2 separate regions of the Homo sapiens genome follow, and region 2 is linked to region 1. The links come from fine-mapping of genetic effects on gene expression. Tissue or cell type: nucleus accumbens. Region 1 holds a variant in brackets; the other region holds the start of a gene. All regions are shown on one strand. Distances are between the middles of the regions.

The links. PIP is the estimated chance that this variant, and not a neighbour inherited with it, causes the effect.
Region 2: it holds the start of LINC02518, and the variant in region 1 is fine-mapped to the expression of LINC02518 in nucleus accumbens (GTEx, PIP above 0.99). The same link has a PIP of 0.9 or more in caudate, prefrontal cortex and putamen.

Annotation. Positions count from the first base shown.
Region 1 is chr6:113,592,897-113,601,005 of GRCh38, forward strand. No RefSeq gene overlaps it. Among named protein-coding and RNA genes, the nearest start is that of LINC02541, 53 kb to the right of the region's middle. RefSeq lists an enhancer at 4,007-4,186. The variant G/A (reference allele first, on the strand shown) is at 3,422.
Region 2 is chr6:113,429,935-113,438,043 of GRCh38, forward strand. It overlaps LINC02518 (long intergenic non-protein coding RNA 2518), which reads right to left and starts at 3,513. Exons shown (of 2, transcript NR_149098.1): 1 at 3,403-3,513.

The sequences.
Region 1 (8,109 bases):
ATGTATCAACTTCAGAATGAAAGAGCCACTTCTTAGTCCCAGAAACAATTGTCATTCAACTAGAGGCTCTGAACTGTTGTTTTCCCCTTTGTGTTTGTATGGATTTAGACTGGGTGATACATTTTGAGGGTGGTATTTTTTTTTAATGAGGCTGATAATACAGTTCTCTAAAGTTTTCTGGTTTAGGCCAATGTTTTAGACTAAAGAACTCAGTTTGTGCCAACCGGAAGTGCTATGCAAAGCTGTCTGGTAGAGTTGACAGAACTCAGGATTTGGAGTCAAAAGACCTGGGTTTGAGTCCCAGATCTCCCACCTTCTTATAAGTCACCTGGTACAGGCACATCTTAAAGGATTTCTGGGAGGAGTAACTAGATTAATTTATCAGGCAATGGTAAAGCCAACTGTATTAGTCCGTTTTCATGCTGCTGATAAAAACCTACTCCAGACTGGGTAATTTATAAAGGAAAGAGGCTTAATGGACTCACAGTTTCACATGACTGGGGAGGTCTCACAATCATGGCAGAAGGCAAAAGGCATGTCTTACATGGTGGCAGACAAGAGAAAATGAGAGATCAGAGCAAAAGGGGAAACCTCTTATAAAACCATCAGACCTCATGAAACTTATTCACTACCATAAGAATAGTATGGGGGAAACTGCCCCCATGATTCAATCATCTCACAATGGGTCCCTCCCATAACCCATAGGAATTATGGGAGCTACAATTCAAGACGAGGTTTAGGTGGGGACACAGCCAAACCATATCAGCAACCTGTATTTTATAGTTGGAGTCTGTTTGTATTGATTGATTGCTATAATGATTGTTAAATATTAAATATTTTGAGTTTTACCTTGCATGAAGCACAAAGGAGATGCCAGTTAAGATTTCTGCCTACCACTAGCAGAACCTTTGCAGACAAGTCTTGCTGCTGTAAGCACAGATTTAATTGTTGGTTACAATATGGAAGATGTTATTCTAGAAATGAACCTTTCTGGGGTCATAATGGCTTTGAGTTCTTTTCAAGTAGGTACAAAGATTTAATGCCATGCTGTATGAGAAGCAAAGTCATTAGGTTGGGCCCAGTGGTTCTCAGTCCTGGCTGCACATAGAATCACCTGGTGTATTAGTCAGGGTTCTCTAGCGGTACAGAACTAATGGAATATATATATATAAAAGGGAGTTTATTAAGTATTAATAAACTTAATAAAGGGGAGTTTATTAAGTATTAACTCACATGACCACAAGGTCCCAAAATAGGCCATCTGAAGGCTGAGGAGCAAGGAGAGCCAGTCCGAGTTCCAAAACTGAAAAACTTGCAGTTCGATGTTTGAGGGCAGGAAGCATCCAGCACGGGAGAAAGATGTAGGCTGGGAAGCTAGGCCAGTCCCTCTCTCGTTTTTTTTTGAGATTGAGTCTCGCTCTGTTGCTCAGGCTGGAGTGCAGTGGCGTGATCTTGGCTCACTGCAGCATCCACTTCCTGGGTTCAAGTGATTCTCCTGCCTCAGTCTCCCAAATTGCTGGGATTACAGGTGCCCACGACTATACCCAGCTAATTTTTGTACTTTTTAGTAGAGATAGGGTTTCACCATGTTGGCCAGGGTGGTCTCGAACTCCTGACCTCAGGTGATCTGCCCACCTTGTCCTCCCAAAGCGCTGGGATTACTGGCGTGAGCCACCATGCCCGGCCTCCAGTCTCCCTTTTTACATTTTTCTGCCTGCTTATATTCTAGCTGTGGTGGCAACTGATTAGATTGTGCCACTCAGATTAAGGATGAGTCTGACTTTCCCAGCCCACTGACTCAGATGTTAGTCTCCTTTGGCAACACCCTCACAGACACACCCAGGATCAATACTTTGTATCCTTCAATCCAATCAAGTTGACACTCAGTATTAACCATCACACCTGGGGAGCCTTTTGAAAACACTTGTGCCTGCACCCTACCCTAAACCAAAGAAATCAGAATCTATCTGTGCAGAGTCATGGGAAATCTTCCCCAGGTGATGTCACTGTCCATCCAGAATAGAATCACTGCAGCTAGACATCTATTCTCATTCAGTGCATGAAGCAAGTACCTGGCCCTACAGCTCCTCTACCAGCAGACATTGTGGCAGGTGTCCACTTTCTAGATGAAACTTTCCTTATAAAAGACCTACTGTAGGCCAGTAGGTGGCTCACACCTGTAATCCCAGCAGTTTGGGAGGCTGGGGCGGGTGGATCACTTGAGATCAGGAGTTCAAGACCAGCCCAGACAACATGGTTAAACCCCGCCTCTGCTAAAAATACAAAAAATTAGCCGGGGGTGGTGGTGGGTGCCTGTAATCCCAGCTACTTCAGAGGCTAAGGCAGGAAAATCACTTGAACCTGGGAGCCGGAGGTTACAGTGCGCTGAGGTCACACCGTTGCACTCCAGCCTGGGCAACAAGAGTGAAACTCTGTCTCAAAAAAATAAAAAATGAAAGACCTACTGTGTATGTACCATCCATAAATCCAAGCAAGAGAGGATGCTGCTCTGCATCTTATAAGGGAGCAAGCAACCTGGCCTTCTTTCAACAGCACTTCTCTTCATGAAAAGGAGAGTCCACGGGGCCAAAGCGATACCCCCACCCCACCCCAAACACATCCTTAATCATGCTTTGAGTTCCCAGGACCCTAAAATTCCCTTCCCAATCAACTAAAACCAACTTCTTAGGACCTGACTAGGCACACCTTTAGGCCAAGGGATGTCCCAGAGGTGGCTGTTGATGAGGGTGTTAATGCAGCTTGGACACGTGTGGTGGAGTTTGAGAGGTCCCATGCATTGTAGGATGGGGGTAGGGTCTGAAAAGATGGGGGTAGACCCAGGACCTAGGGCAGTGGGCCAGGCAGTGAGAGGCCCGATTTCCCTGGCCATCCAATTCCAGGATGAAACTCCAAGGAGTCAGGGAACTCTAAATTCAAATCCAGCCTCTAGATAGTTAATGAAAATACATTTGTCATGAAGGGAGGGTAGAACATATTTTATGTTTTACTTAAGAATGTTCAAGCTTGCATCATAACTTTTAAGTATTTAGGCATATGGCTTGTGGGCCTCCGTTTGTACTCTTGCCCTGGGCCCTGCAAATGTTAGGGGCGAGCCGAAAGGACACATCTTTGCCTCACATCCCTCCGGGATGTTTGCTTATTTGAAATTAGCAGCCATGGAAGCTTTCCAAGGCTCTTTGAATGCAATGAGAATGTGGTCCATCAAAAATGCTGTCTGATTTTATTGCACATGAGAAGTTGTTAACTCTGGCAGCCCAGCCAGATTCTTGTATGTTCTCATTGTCCCTTAGGCCTCCCCAGCCAAATCCTAATGGGGTAATGAGTCTGTGCCTATGAGATTTGAGGGAGGGGCTGAGGGAAGTGTAATCAAGCAAATCACAAAGTGTTGAGCTTAGAGAAC[G/A]GAAGGCCTCCGTTCCTTTGACTTCATTTTCAATTCACTTAATTTCAGGGTTGGATCCCCCCCACCCCGCCCCTTTGGCAGTGAAAAAGAAAAGGAATGTTCTCTGTTTTTCCTCTTATAAAACCTGGAGCATAATAACTGCCCTGGACTGTTAGGAACACGGTGAGGAGGATCTCAGAGAACAGGGACTGCTTATAGCCTACATATGAAATTGTATAAGCAATTGTCGTTTTTCCCCCATTCATTAATCTGGCAGGATTTACTAAGGGTTTTAGAAGGGAAACATGGCTGTTTTAAGAGAAACTACAATAAGGAAATGGTGGGGGTTGGGCAGAGAAGGCCAAGGACAGACTTGAATTCACACTTTATAAATCTGGCACGGTATATGTGAACTGCTTCATGAACTGGCTGATATCAGGCAAATAAGAAAGTTAAAGCAAACCAAGAGCTATGCTCAAGCAGTCAGTTCTCCCAGCAAATTAACCAGGCACTTTCAGGAGTATGAAACTCCAGAATCCAGGCAAATGGCACAGAGGTCTCTGAATGGGTCTCAGCAGCTGCCAAGGCAGCTCACACATCTTGCACACCAAAGGAGTCACTTACCCTCTTGAGGAAATGAAAAGTCCCTAAGACCAAGCCTCTCTGGAACATGTCATAGGCCCTGGGAGAGCCCAGGGATAACCTTTAGGGTTAAGTGTCCCCATGATGCTGCTGGTATTTCAGTGAGAACAGGCAGGCCGGAAGGAGGCTGGTGTGGGAAGCAGCCCTCACACAGATGTTAGCATAAAAGAGCTGTTTACTTGGTGATTAGTATCATGAAATGAAAAGCTCAGGTTTCAACTGCTTAGGGAAGAATGATTATTTTTCTCACTGTGCAGCCTTTGCCGTTGGCACAGAGAATGTATTCATCAACGTCCCAGGTGTCACTCTTGGGCAGGTGGGATTCCAGACTCAGGTTGGGCCATCACCCCTGGCCCCATCTGGAGAGACATGGGGACTTGCTCAAACTTTTGTATTTATGTAATGAGTAAGAGGCTGAATCCCAGAGGAGTTACCCCTCAGCCAGGCTAACCTCAGAGTTCTGCATTTACCATGGGTACATCACCACAAAACAGTGACCAACACTACCTCGTTCCTAACTTCCCCAGAAGGGCAAGGGTGAAATGGACCAACTTACAGATTCATGGGGTTTAGAGAAAGAATTAATCAGCACCCTCTTTTTATCACCAACAGGCCTACCCATGGCCAATACATCCAAATTGTGCACACTGTGGAAAGATCACTCTCTTAGTGCCTCAAAGCTTAGAATCAGTTTTATTAAATTATTCTAACATTTCCCCCAAAGAAGTATGAGCCAAGAGGCAGTTTATTTTCTGGAAAAAAAACATGCACTTTGAACATAAAGGGCTCTTGGTTTGAATACCAGTTCTTCCACTTACTAGTTATGAGATCTTGGGTGAGTTATTTAAGAATTCTGCATCTCAGTTTCCCAATATATAAAATAGAGATAATAATAGCTACATCACAGAACGATTATGCAGATTAAATTAGATAACTCCTGATAGGCACTCAATACAAGGAAGCTTTTATGAACAGGAAATGTGCTTTTCAGAGAAGCCTTTACCTCCCTCCCCATTGTAAGGTCTTCGAGTTCAATAGCAGCATCTGGGGTGGATTCTCCTCCAGAGCTACAGTGCTGCCTCCTCCTTTCCAAATGAATAAATCTGGTTGCTCCCATTGCATATATCAGTGTCTAAATAAAACTTTCGGTGAAAATGATTTCAAAAAACAATCTGAGGGGCTAGATGTGGTAGTTCATGCCTATAATTCCAGCACTTTGGGAGTCCCAGGTGGGTGGATCACCTGAGGTCGGGAGACTAGCCTGGTCAACATGGTGAAACCTCGTCTCTACTAAAAATACAAAAATTAGCAAGACGTGGTGGTAGGCACCCGTAATCCCAGCTGCTCAGGAGGCAGAAGTTGCAGTGAGCTGAGACTGTGCCACTGCACTCCAGCCTGGGTGACAGCGAGACTCTGTCTCAAAAAAAAAAGTCTGAGGGATTGCTTCTTGCCATCTCCTTCCTACCATCCCACTCTACCTTCCACGTTGCATCAGGAAAATAGCATCTGGGGAAAGAATGGGAGACTCAGCTTTTCTGGGAAGTAGTGATGGGCAAAGGCAGTTGAAGGCTGTGACCTTGAAAGGACATCAGAAGCTACCCAATAGAAACCCCTCTGAAGCTGAACGCTAGATGATAACAGAATGGCTTTTTTTAAGACTTGTTTCCTTACTAGCTTCAAGGCTGCCCTAAAGGCAGACCAGAAAGGGGCAATTCTTACACCCAAGGCCCAGGTGTGAACCCAGCATCCTTACTTGTAATTGCATGTATGGTAATTGTCTGTCCAGCGTATCCCAACCAGAGATGCATACCATCTTGCCTCAATCCCGTTTCCAAATTCTTTTCTGCATATAGAATACTATATCTCTACTGCCATGTAATACTTGTTATTATCATTAGGCCCAATTATCACTGATACCACACAACAGTATTTTTTAAAAGTCTTGATGTTATAATGATGGATGTTATGTTTTGGCACCGCTCTTCTGCCTGATCTCATACAGAACTTCTCACATACCACAGATAAGATGCATGAATAAATAAATTGCTTTTAATGCTGGATGACACATGGACTGAGTGTGTAATGGCAGGTCCATGAACAGGAAGGTGGGGAAAAACATGTGTGGAGAGACTTAGACAGATAGAGTGCTTAGAACCAAAAATAGGTAGTTTAGAATTACACAAGCATCCCTGATCTCTTCACGACAATAGGGAATTTTTACCTGTTCTTTGTCTCACGTAGCTTATAGATCTACCAGAAATTCCTGGAGGTGAACTAGAGCAAGACATCCTTCACTTTTCCTTCCCGGAACTGAGTTCACACTTTGCCAACATGAAATTTTGGTTTGCTGTTGGAAAGAATCTATGTTAATGGTCCCAATCTTAACAAAACATGCTGTCAGAGGAGTTTGGGAATAGAAGGGAAGAAAAGGGTGGGCCCGGCTGTGTGGCTCTTCAGCCTGAGCCCTGTGGAAAAGATTACCATCTGGAGACTGTGACCTCTTAGCAAGTGCAAACATCATTTAACTCTTTAAAAGCAACTAGAGCATCCATCATCATTCTTTAAAACAAACAGAAACCAAAAACCAACAAACAAATATGAATCCCTTACTTTTGCAGGCACTGTGCTTTGCAAAGGGAATAAGATAAGCCTCTCAAGCAATGATTCACAGGAAAGAGAAGAGAATGTTACAGTCTCCATGGGAATGATAAAGGAGGTAGGGGAGGAGTCTGAGACCACAAGTCCCACACTTCTTCAAAATGCCCCTGGCCACTCTGCCTGAGTCTTAGCTGGCCTGTGAAGCCCTTACATGGCTCCTGGGCAAGTGCTATGCAGCATTATTGTTTACAACATGTTTATATGACCACATTAAGAGTAGAGTCATTATAGAAGGAGCAGGATTAAAAATAAATAAATAAATAAATAAATACAAAAGAGTAGGACCAGCCAGCTGGGCAACTAATTGTCACTAATCTATAAAGGTCACCAAAATGTTACAGGAATCAATGTGCACTGATCTCATTCCTAGTGCCCTTGAGAAAAAAAAAGAAAATACTCTTCACTAGGGCAAACTCACTTCTATTGAGTATTTTTTGGGGAAATAGTGGTGGCCATCAACTGAAAATTATGATCACAGATAGCTGAATTCTGACAAATTCTAGAACAAATAACTGAAGATCTACTGAAGTTGTTCATGGGTCAAATAATGGCAGAATCACTGTCCTGGAGACAGTCAAAAGGATATATCCCCTGGGAAGTGCCTACTGATGAAAAACAATAGACACAGGGGTTGAATATATTCCAGCTTTCCTAGTGGTCTTAATTAGTAAGTCAGTATGATTACATGGTCAATCAAATTGATTGTTGATTAGCTTAAGTGGCTGGAGGAAAAAAGCACATTGATTCTTTTCTCTAGGTGGTATTTTATGTCAAATAAACATTGTATTTTTCTAAGGATCTCTAGGAAATGAGATTTATTCTTGCTCTTTAATAAACTTTTCCAATGACTAAATGCCTTAAAATCCAAACATTATTTTGCACATTTTACCTAAATTTTCTTGGTGAAATGTAGACTTATTTTCCCTTTGTTTGAGATCACTTCTGAAATAGGGAGTCCTCACAGCTTCATTTATGACCCTGAATAAACTACCTGTTGATATGGTTTGGATTTGTGTCTCCACTCAAATCTCATGTGGAATTGTAATCCCCAATGTTGGAGAAGAGGCCTGATGGGAGGTGATTGTCTCATGGGTTTGAACTTCCCCTTGCCGTTCTTGTGATAGTGAGTGAGTTCTCACGAGATCTGGTTGTTGTGTGTAGCACCTTCCCCTTTGCACTCTTCCTCTTTCTCCTGCCATGTAAGATATTCCTGCTTCCTCTTTGCCTTCCATTATGATTGTAAGTTTCCTGAAGCCTCCCCAGCTATGCTTCCTGTACAGCCTGTGAAACTCTGAGTCAATTAAACCTCTCTTCTTTATAAATTACCCAGTCTCAGGTAGTTCTTTATAGCAATGTATTGATATAATAAATAATAAATACTCTTTATTAATAAAGAGTATTACAGACTA
Region 2 (8,109 bases), 160 kb before region 1:
TACTTCGTTGGAGAGAAAACTCTAGCCCCAACTGTTTGAGAGATTTTGCCCAAGGGCCTCATTAGTAGTAAATTCAGGGTTAAGAATCCAACTCTTTTGCTTTACAAATCAGAATCCTGTCACTTATGTCACGATGATGCAGAAAAACAAACTAAAATTTGTCATTGCAAGATAATGAAACTCTCTCCTGAAAAAGTTATTTTGTACTAGACTGTTGCAATAGTGCAGATCTACTTTGATGTGTCAGGTTTGGCTCAAGCACCGTGCTTCCAGGGAGTTTTCTGGTGATCCCATGCTCTGTACCCTGCACCTACATCTGCTATGGGAGACCCTTCCTCTCCTTCCCCTCTGTATTTGTTAATATGCTCACACACAGCATTATAATCACTTTTGTACACCTACTTTCTCCACTAGATGTTAAATTCATTGAGAATATAATAGTATAAAATGAAGTTTGTTAAATGAGTAACGAATAAAGAAAATGTAATAATTCAATTTTTTTTCTTTTGAGGCAGGGTCTTGCTCTGTTACTCAGGCTAGAGTAGAAATGGCTTCATTAAAGCCTTGAATTTCTGAGCTCAAGTGATTCTCCCACCACAGCCTCCCGAGTAGCTAGGACTACAGGCACACACCATCACATCTAGCTATTTTTTTTTTATTTGTAACTTTTCATAGAGATGAGGTCTCTCCATGCTTCCCAGACTGACCTTGAACCCCTAGGTTCAAGTAATCCTCCTGCCTCAGCCTCCCAAAGTGCTGGGGTTACAAACATGAGCCTTCATGCCCAGCCTATTTTTTTTTATTTCAAAGCAATAAGAATAATAATGCCAGCAATAAGATTGTTGTGAAGTTTAAATGTGATGTTTTAACACTTGTTAAGTGCTTCACATAAGGCATTTAACCATGTCAAGCTACATATTAGTGTCTCAGTAGCATCTATCTATTGAATGCTTACTCAATCTTCTTCTGAAACCATCAAAAATTGTTACAAGCCTTCTATGTACTAATGATTGCACTTTTAGTATCCATTGATTAAGAAAGAATAAATTGGTGCTTGACTTTGCAACTCTGCAAATCTCCAAGGGTCCCTAACCCATAGGTGAGAATCTCATGAACTGTAGATTGTCCCAGGACCTAGAATGAAGCTTATAGTTCATCATGAGAGCCATTATGGCAGAGCAAAACACCCACAACACAAGCAAAGCACAACAGTCTGAGAGCAATAGAGGAAGGGACAATAAAGGAAAGACAGCAGGTCTCATTGCTTCCTACTCTTCAGAATCCCCACAGATTCATAGGTTATTGCCAGTATGCAGCTACTTCACCGTCTGCAATCCCTTGCTCCACAAAAATACCTACTGTTCCTAGGCAGCACCACATACATACTCAACAGTAGCTTGAGGAGGCTGTGTTAAAATAAAATAGACAGCCTGATTATGTTTCTTATGAACCTAAAGAATTCCAACTAGATTTCTTGTACTCTTTTTTTTTTTTTTTTCTAAACCTATTAGTTAGAACTATCCCAGTTTCACATGATGGAAATGCAACCTTAACTGTTTAAACAAACAATATGGAGACAGGTGTAAAGAATGTATTAATTCACTGAAAAGTCCAAAAATAGGATAGGTTCAGACACGACAGTGTCCAAGAACTGAAAAATAAGTCACCAAAACTCAGTTTCTTTCTCATTGTGATTTCCTCCAAAGTAGGTAATACTTTCAAACAGGTTCTCCCCACATGATATAAAGGTTAGCTGATAATAACCACAGCAGAAAGTAAGGTTCTTTCTCCCAGTGGCTTCCCAAAAAAATCCCATAATTGGCAGCCAGGTTTCTATGCTTTAGGTCAAAACAAATCACAGTGATGGAGGGGATATATTGTTTGGACCAACATAGTTTACTTGCGGGATACCAACCATTCTGCTTTATCAGGACTGTCCTGGTTTTAACATTGCAAGTCTTTTGTCCCAGAAAACTTCTCCACTTCAGGCAAACTAGGATGTTAGTCACCCCAGTTTACATTTGTGCTACTAGGCTACACATGTTTTTTCCATACTACGGCACTCAGTGGGCATAATAACAGGGATGAAATGCTAAGTGGGGGGAAAATGTCCTCTACATTGACCTGCGAACTATTGAAATGTGCTGACACGGTGGCCACATGTGCTCATTGAGCACTGAAATACAATGGTCTGCAATTAAGTTTGAGGGCTGAATTAAAATGTGCATTAAATATAAAATACCAACTAGATTTTAAAAAGTTACTAGAAAAAATAATGTAAGAGATATTAATAAATTTATATTTGCATGTTAAAATGATAATGTTTTGAATATAGCTAAATAAAACATTATTAAAAATTAATTTCACCAGTTTCTTCTTCCTTTTTTAATATGGCTATTAGTAAATCTTAAATTACACATGGCTCACATTATATTCCTGTTGGATGGCACTGTGATAAGATTTTTTAAACAAAGTTAATAAAGTATTTATGTCATGTATAGGCGGAGGACATTAAAAAGATATTTTGAGTATGCAGACACCTTAAACAATAAATGATAAACGAATTACGTAGAAAACATCCCAGGCCCACAAAAAATGAAGCACAATAATGTCAAACTCAATACCAAATTCATGTGCTCAATCATTTCTGTCCTCATTGGTGCCAGGACCAGCATAAGTTCTGGGGCTTCAGGCCCAACTGCCAAAAGAGGTTTGTCCTTCAGAAACCCACAGACCAGAAAGGAAAAGAGACAGGTTTAAAAAAAAGTTATACAAAATTATGTTGTGAGTAATACAATAAGTTCCAGCATACACAATCTGTTTTGATTTAATTATAGTAATTACATCATCTACATAATTTTTGGTTTATTCAATCCATACTCTACATGTTCTCTTTCTATTGCATGTCAACTTCCTTGAGAGCAGAAGTATTGCATTAATAAGTTTTATGCAACCAATTGCTTTTCTTTCAGTGCTTCCTTTTTATTTAATGATCAAATGTTTCTTCATCTCATATTTACTCTCCCCAGAGTCAGGTTAGCCCAGTGAAATCTAATGGGCTTAGGGTCAAATATTGCCAAAGTCCCTTACCAACTTGCTTACCTACTGGGAGTGTGTAACCCCTCTGCGCCTCATTTTCCACCAACAACATTGAGAAACAGGATACTCAGTGTCTCTTTGACACATACACACTCATATTCACACACACAAATTCAGATCATTGCTTGCAATTTAGCTTATTATTGTTAGTCATCTGAACATATCAAATACTTCCAAACACTCCAACTCACTGGAGTTTTGCTCCCTCAATATATCTATTTTTAAGCACTGGAAGGGGGTTCTACATGCCAGCAATTTGGTTCCCTCTAAACATCCTTGAAAATGTTTATTTGAAAAGATTACCTTGTTTTCCTTCAGGATTAAGACATGGTCACTGCAGACAGAGATGATTTGGAAAGATGGCAAGCAGTTTTTGATAGCTCCTCAGAGACTCCCCTTGTTAAATGAATATACCTGCAGAAAAAACAAAATGCATTCCAGCCCACACACGTTAGAGACATTTTTCAAACACCTAGATGAGAGAAGATAGCTATTACAAATAACATATTTGTTGGAGAGAGTGAAGAAATCACAAACTGGCTTGGATAAATACTATTAAATGCATACTTTGCCTGCCGATTGCGACAGTTTCCCTCTGGCACTCACTGACAAGCTTGGCTCCAGCTGTAAATTAGGTTGCAAAACTTCCTTGTCAGAGAACTCGCCCTGTGAGGAGGACTCAACCCTGGCTCTGAATCTGCAAGGACAGAAAAATCAATGTGACAGAGAAGCAGTTGCTTGTGTCAGGCCTCACCAAGGAGAGAAAAGGCTTTAAATTAATCATGATTTAAGGATGCTGGCAAAACAGTGCAAAGGCACATTCCTGGTGTCTCTGAGAAAAGGGAAAAAGGAGCCTGGAGCACTTTGCGGATGCTCCCCACAGATCCTGCCCTTCTGTTATAAACAGAATTCAGTGTTTACTGTGGGGATGAGAAAGCACTATGGATCTCGTGTAAACAGATAAAATGCAACAAGACTGATAAAAGTTTGGTGAAGCAGTATTGGTCAGTGTGTAGCATGGGGATAAATGAAAGTTTCATCTTCTCTCCTAGAACCTATGAATGAATTAAATCACCTGGGAGGATTTCAGGTCATATAGTAAATTTTGATGTCCCACAATAAGAAAAAGCTGGCTTGAACCTCTTATCTGGAGAGGGATCAAAAATCGCCTTCTGGAGATGCCTTTTTAAAAAATGTCTCACCTATGTTGGACAATGGGGACATCTGGATGAGGGAAATCAATTTTTTTGCCTGGCTTATGCTTTGGAGCAGTGGCTTTAAAATGTCCAAAAAGACCTACTAAGATTACTGTTAAACTGCCACCATTATATGGTACCAGTGAAGCAGTGAGCCCCCAAGGTAGAGGTAAGACCTACCTCAGATGTCAGTCACTGTTGGCCAAGGAAGATCATGTTAGGAAACATCCACCTCTGCTACCAATTTAGGCAATCGAGTCTCTGCACTAGAGAAAATGACATCCCGGACAGCTGATTTCAGACAGACTTTGTTCCTGTGTCAGGTACCACACCTTTCCAGTTTGGGTACAAGAACTCAAGTCAATGAGCCAGATTCATTTATTTTCATAAGTCGTCTCTGACTACAGGACCAGGGTTGCTCTGGGCCTTCGACTGGCCTCAACTATGTCAGTTGTTTGTCATGATGACACAACCATTATTCTCCAGTTTTTTCCCCTACAAGTGGAGAGACATCCAATGAGGACCAAACAGGATTAGACCCTATTGTTAAAAGTTTCCTTTGGCTTTATTTTATAGTATCATCTCTATCATCATAAATCAATCATGAAACACAAGATGTTCCACCAAGCACTACACAAGCGAACTACATAGATGTTGTACCTACCCACTAGGGCTTGTGATAGAAACGACAGAGCACTTAAACTATGCAAATATGACAAGTCCCTATAAACAACAGAGTACAGAAGTTAAATCAGCAGGAAATAGAAAATACAAGCATATGCAGAAAACTGAGTGGTAGGGATGAACAATACTGGTAAATATTATTACTATACACTTTTAAAAAAATAGGGAAATCTGAAATCCGAGATAAGAAAAAGAAAAAATTTATACAGCTATGCTGCACTAGAAACATGAACAGCTAACACATAGCCTCATTATAATAAAACCTTTTTGGCAACATTGGGTAACAAGCAGCTTCCAAAAACAACACCATTCCAATATTTTATTTAAAAAGAAAAAGAATGTGTAGCCATCAGTGCAATTTTCCTTGAAAATGAACAGGTTTCATTTGTACCAAGGGAAATTACCAGAAAAGCTGTAGACACTCCCTCTCAGGAGATCTTTATAAATAGTATAACTTTTCACCTGTTTTGTGTGGCTCTCTCAGAAAGCAGATAATAGGCAAGGAAATCCTTTCAAAATCCTCTTTCTGTGTCTCATTCTGGGTTATTCTCCAGTTATTCCACCTATTTGCCTTTGCCTCATCTTGCAGTCAACACTCTTGAGAAAGGACAGTTAAAAAGGAAGAAACAAATAGATGTCAGCACTCCTGAGAGAAAGCTAGAATAGCTAATAAATACACAATCCTTTATATATTCCAAGAGCTACTTAGTGCTCTACCGGAGTTTTCAAATAGAAGAAAAATCTGTTGCAATCTTCTTGTCTAGACCAAATCCATAGCCAACAAAAACCTTTCCATATGCCAAGTCCTAAGCTGAACATTTTATATGAGTGGTCTTATTCAATCTCACCACAACCCTATGAAATAGGCATTTTATTATTCCCATTTTATAGATCAGAAAGCAGAGTCTTAGAAAGATTTTCTTGCACAAACTAACAGAAGTGCGATCTGTTGGAGCTAAGATTAGTGTAATTAGTTTCCTATGGCAGCTGTAAAAAAATTATAATAAACAAGTGGCTTAAGATGACACACATTTTTGCTTGGGCCCAGGAGTTCAAGACCAGCCTGGGAAACATAGGAAGACCTCATCTCTACAAAAATAAAAAATTAGCCTCACGTGGTGGTGCACACCTGTAGAACTAGCTACTCAGGAAGCTGAGGCAAGAGGGTTGCTTGAGCCTAGGAGGTCGAGGTTGCAATAAGCTATGACTGTACCACTGCACTCCAGCCTGAGCAACAAAGTGAGACCCCCTTCTCAAAATAAATAAATGCATAAATAAATAACACAGTTTTTTTCTCTTACAATTCTGGAGGTCAGACTGCCAAAATCAGGTACAGTGGGCTAAAATCAAAGAACCAGTAGAGCTCTTTCTGGTGGCTCTGGAGGAAAATCTGTTTCCTTACCTGTGCCAGGAGGGATGCAGTCCTCATTCCTCAGCTTCTGGACTGGCATCACATCCCCTTTCCTCTTCCTGTTCTTTCGTCACATCCCCTTCTCGTCTTCATCAAATATTCCTCTGCCTCCCTCTTATAAGGATATTTGTGATGGCATGTAGGACTTACCTAGATAATCTAAGACAATCTCCCCTTCTCAAAATCCTTAATTACATCCACAAAATCCCTTTTACCATATAAGGCAGCATTCATAGGTTCCCAGAATTAGGACCTGGATACCTTTGGGAGCTGTTACTCTGCCTACCACAATTAGCATTCCAACTATCTCCCATTCTCTTAAGCAGTATACGATCTTTTTTTATAGATGAGTAATTCCTAAAAAGCTGAATGACTGATTGTCAGCAAGTGAATGGGTATCTCATATAAATTAAAGAGGTAAAAGTAAGTCATTTGTATGGATGGTAGCACAGTATTGGCAAGAACCCTGGACTTGCAGTCAGAAAATGGAGTTTGTTTTCATTAACTAGACATGCAAACTTGGACCAAACACTACATCTCTTGGTATCAGGAATAATAAAGAGTGCCAATTCTCGTCAATAGTAGTAGAGAAGGATTCCACAAATCTCTACAAGTTTCATGGGAAATGTTGGACCCAATTATCAGTGTCTGCCCTGCTTAATCCTTAACCGCCAGACCTTTTTTTTTTTTTTTTTTTTTTTTTTTTGAGATGGGGGTCTCCCTATGTTTCCTGGGCTGGTCTCAAACTCTTGGCCTCAAGCGATTCTTCTACCTTGGCCTCCCAAGTGCTGGGATTACAGGTATGAGCCACCACACCCAGCCTCTAGTCTTTTTTAACTCCAATTTTATATGATTCAAGCCAGGATTGCCATCATCTGCATGCTTGAATGCGGCTGGAGAATCCATTTCCAAGATGGCTTCTTCACGTGGCTATTGGTAAGAGGCCTCAATTTCTTGTAACTCAGGGCAATCCATAGGCCACTTGATTGTCCTTACAACATAGTGATTGGCTTCCCCCAGAGCAAATACTCCAGCAGAGAAAGCAAGGCAGAAGCTACAAAATGTTTTATGGCCTAGCCTTGGAAATGACATACCATACCATCACTTCTGTGCTCCATTGGTCATACACATTTATCCTTATACAGTGTGAGAGGGAGCTGCATCAGGTCATGGATACCAGGAGACAGAGTTGATCACCTAGAGGCTGATCGCCACAATAAACCATGTGGACTAGTGCTTCCCAATAGCACTTCCATGTTGGTGTATATCTAGAGACCTCATCAGTGTTGGAGAGAAAAAGTATTCTTTTCCTCACCTATAGGTGGGTTCACGGCCAAGATCAGTAAAACAAAACACAGATTTAAAGCATATGAATTTATCTAGTGTTAAGTTTCATGAGACACAGGAAATTTCAGAGATGAAGACCCAAAGAAACAGGGAAATCTGTGTGTTTTTATGGTTAGTCATCCAGAAGTATCATTGGAAGACAAGTAGGTATGACCTAATGGTAATAAATGGGGGAATTTAGCAAGGCCGGTTTGCTCAGATTCTGCGATATGTTTCTGTATCTTCACTCATTTCTTCTGGGCCTAGGGAGAATGCCTCTGATATGAGGGTCTTACAACCTACTGTAGATGTAGGTCAGAGAATTCTTTTATAGGATGTTTCAGGGGAGAATGTCCAGAGAATGTCAAAGAGACTTTTCCACTTCTGCTGTTT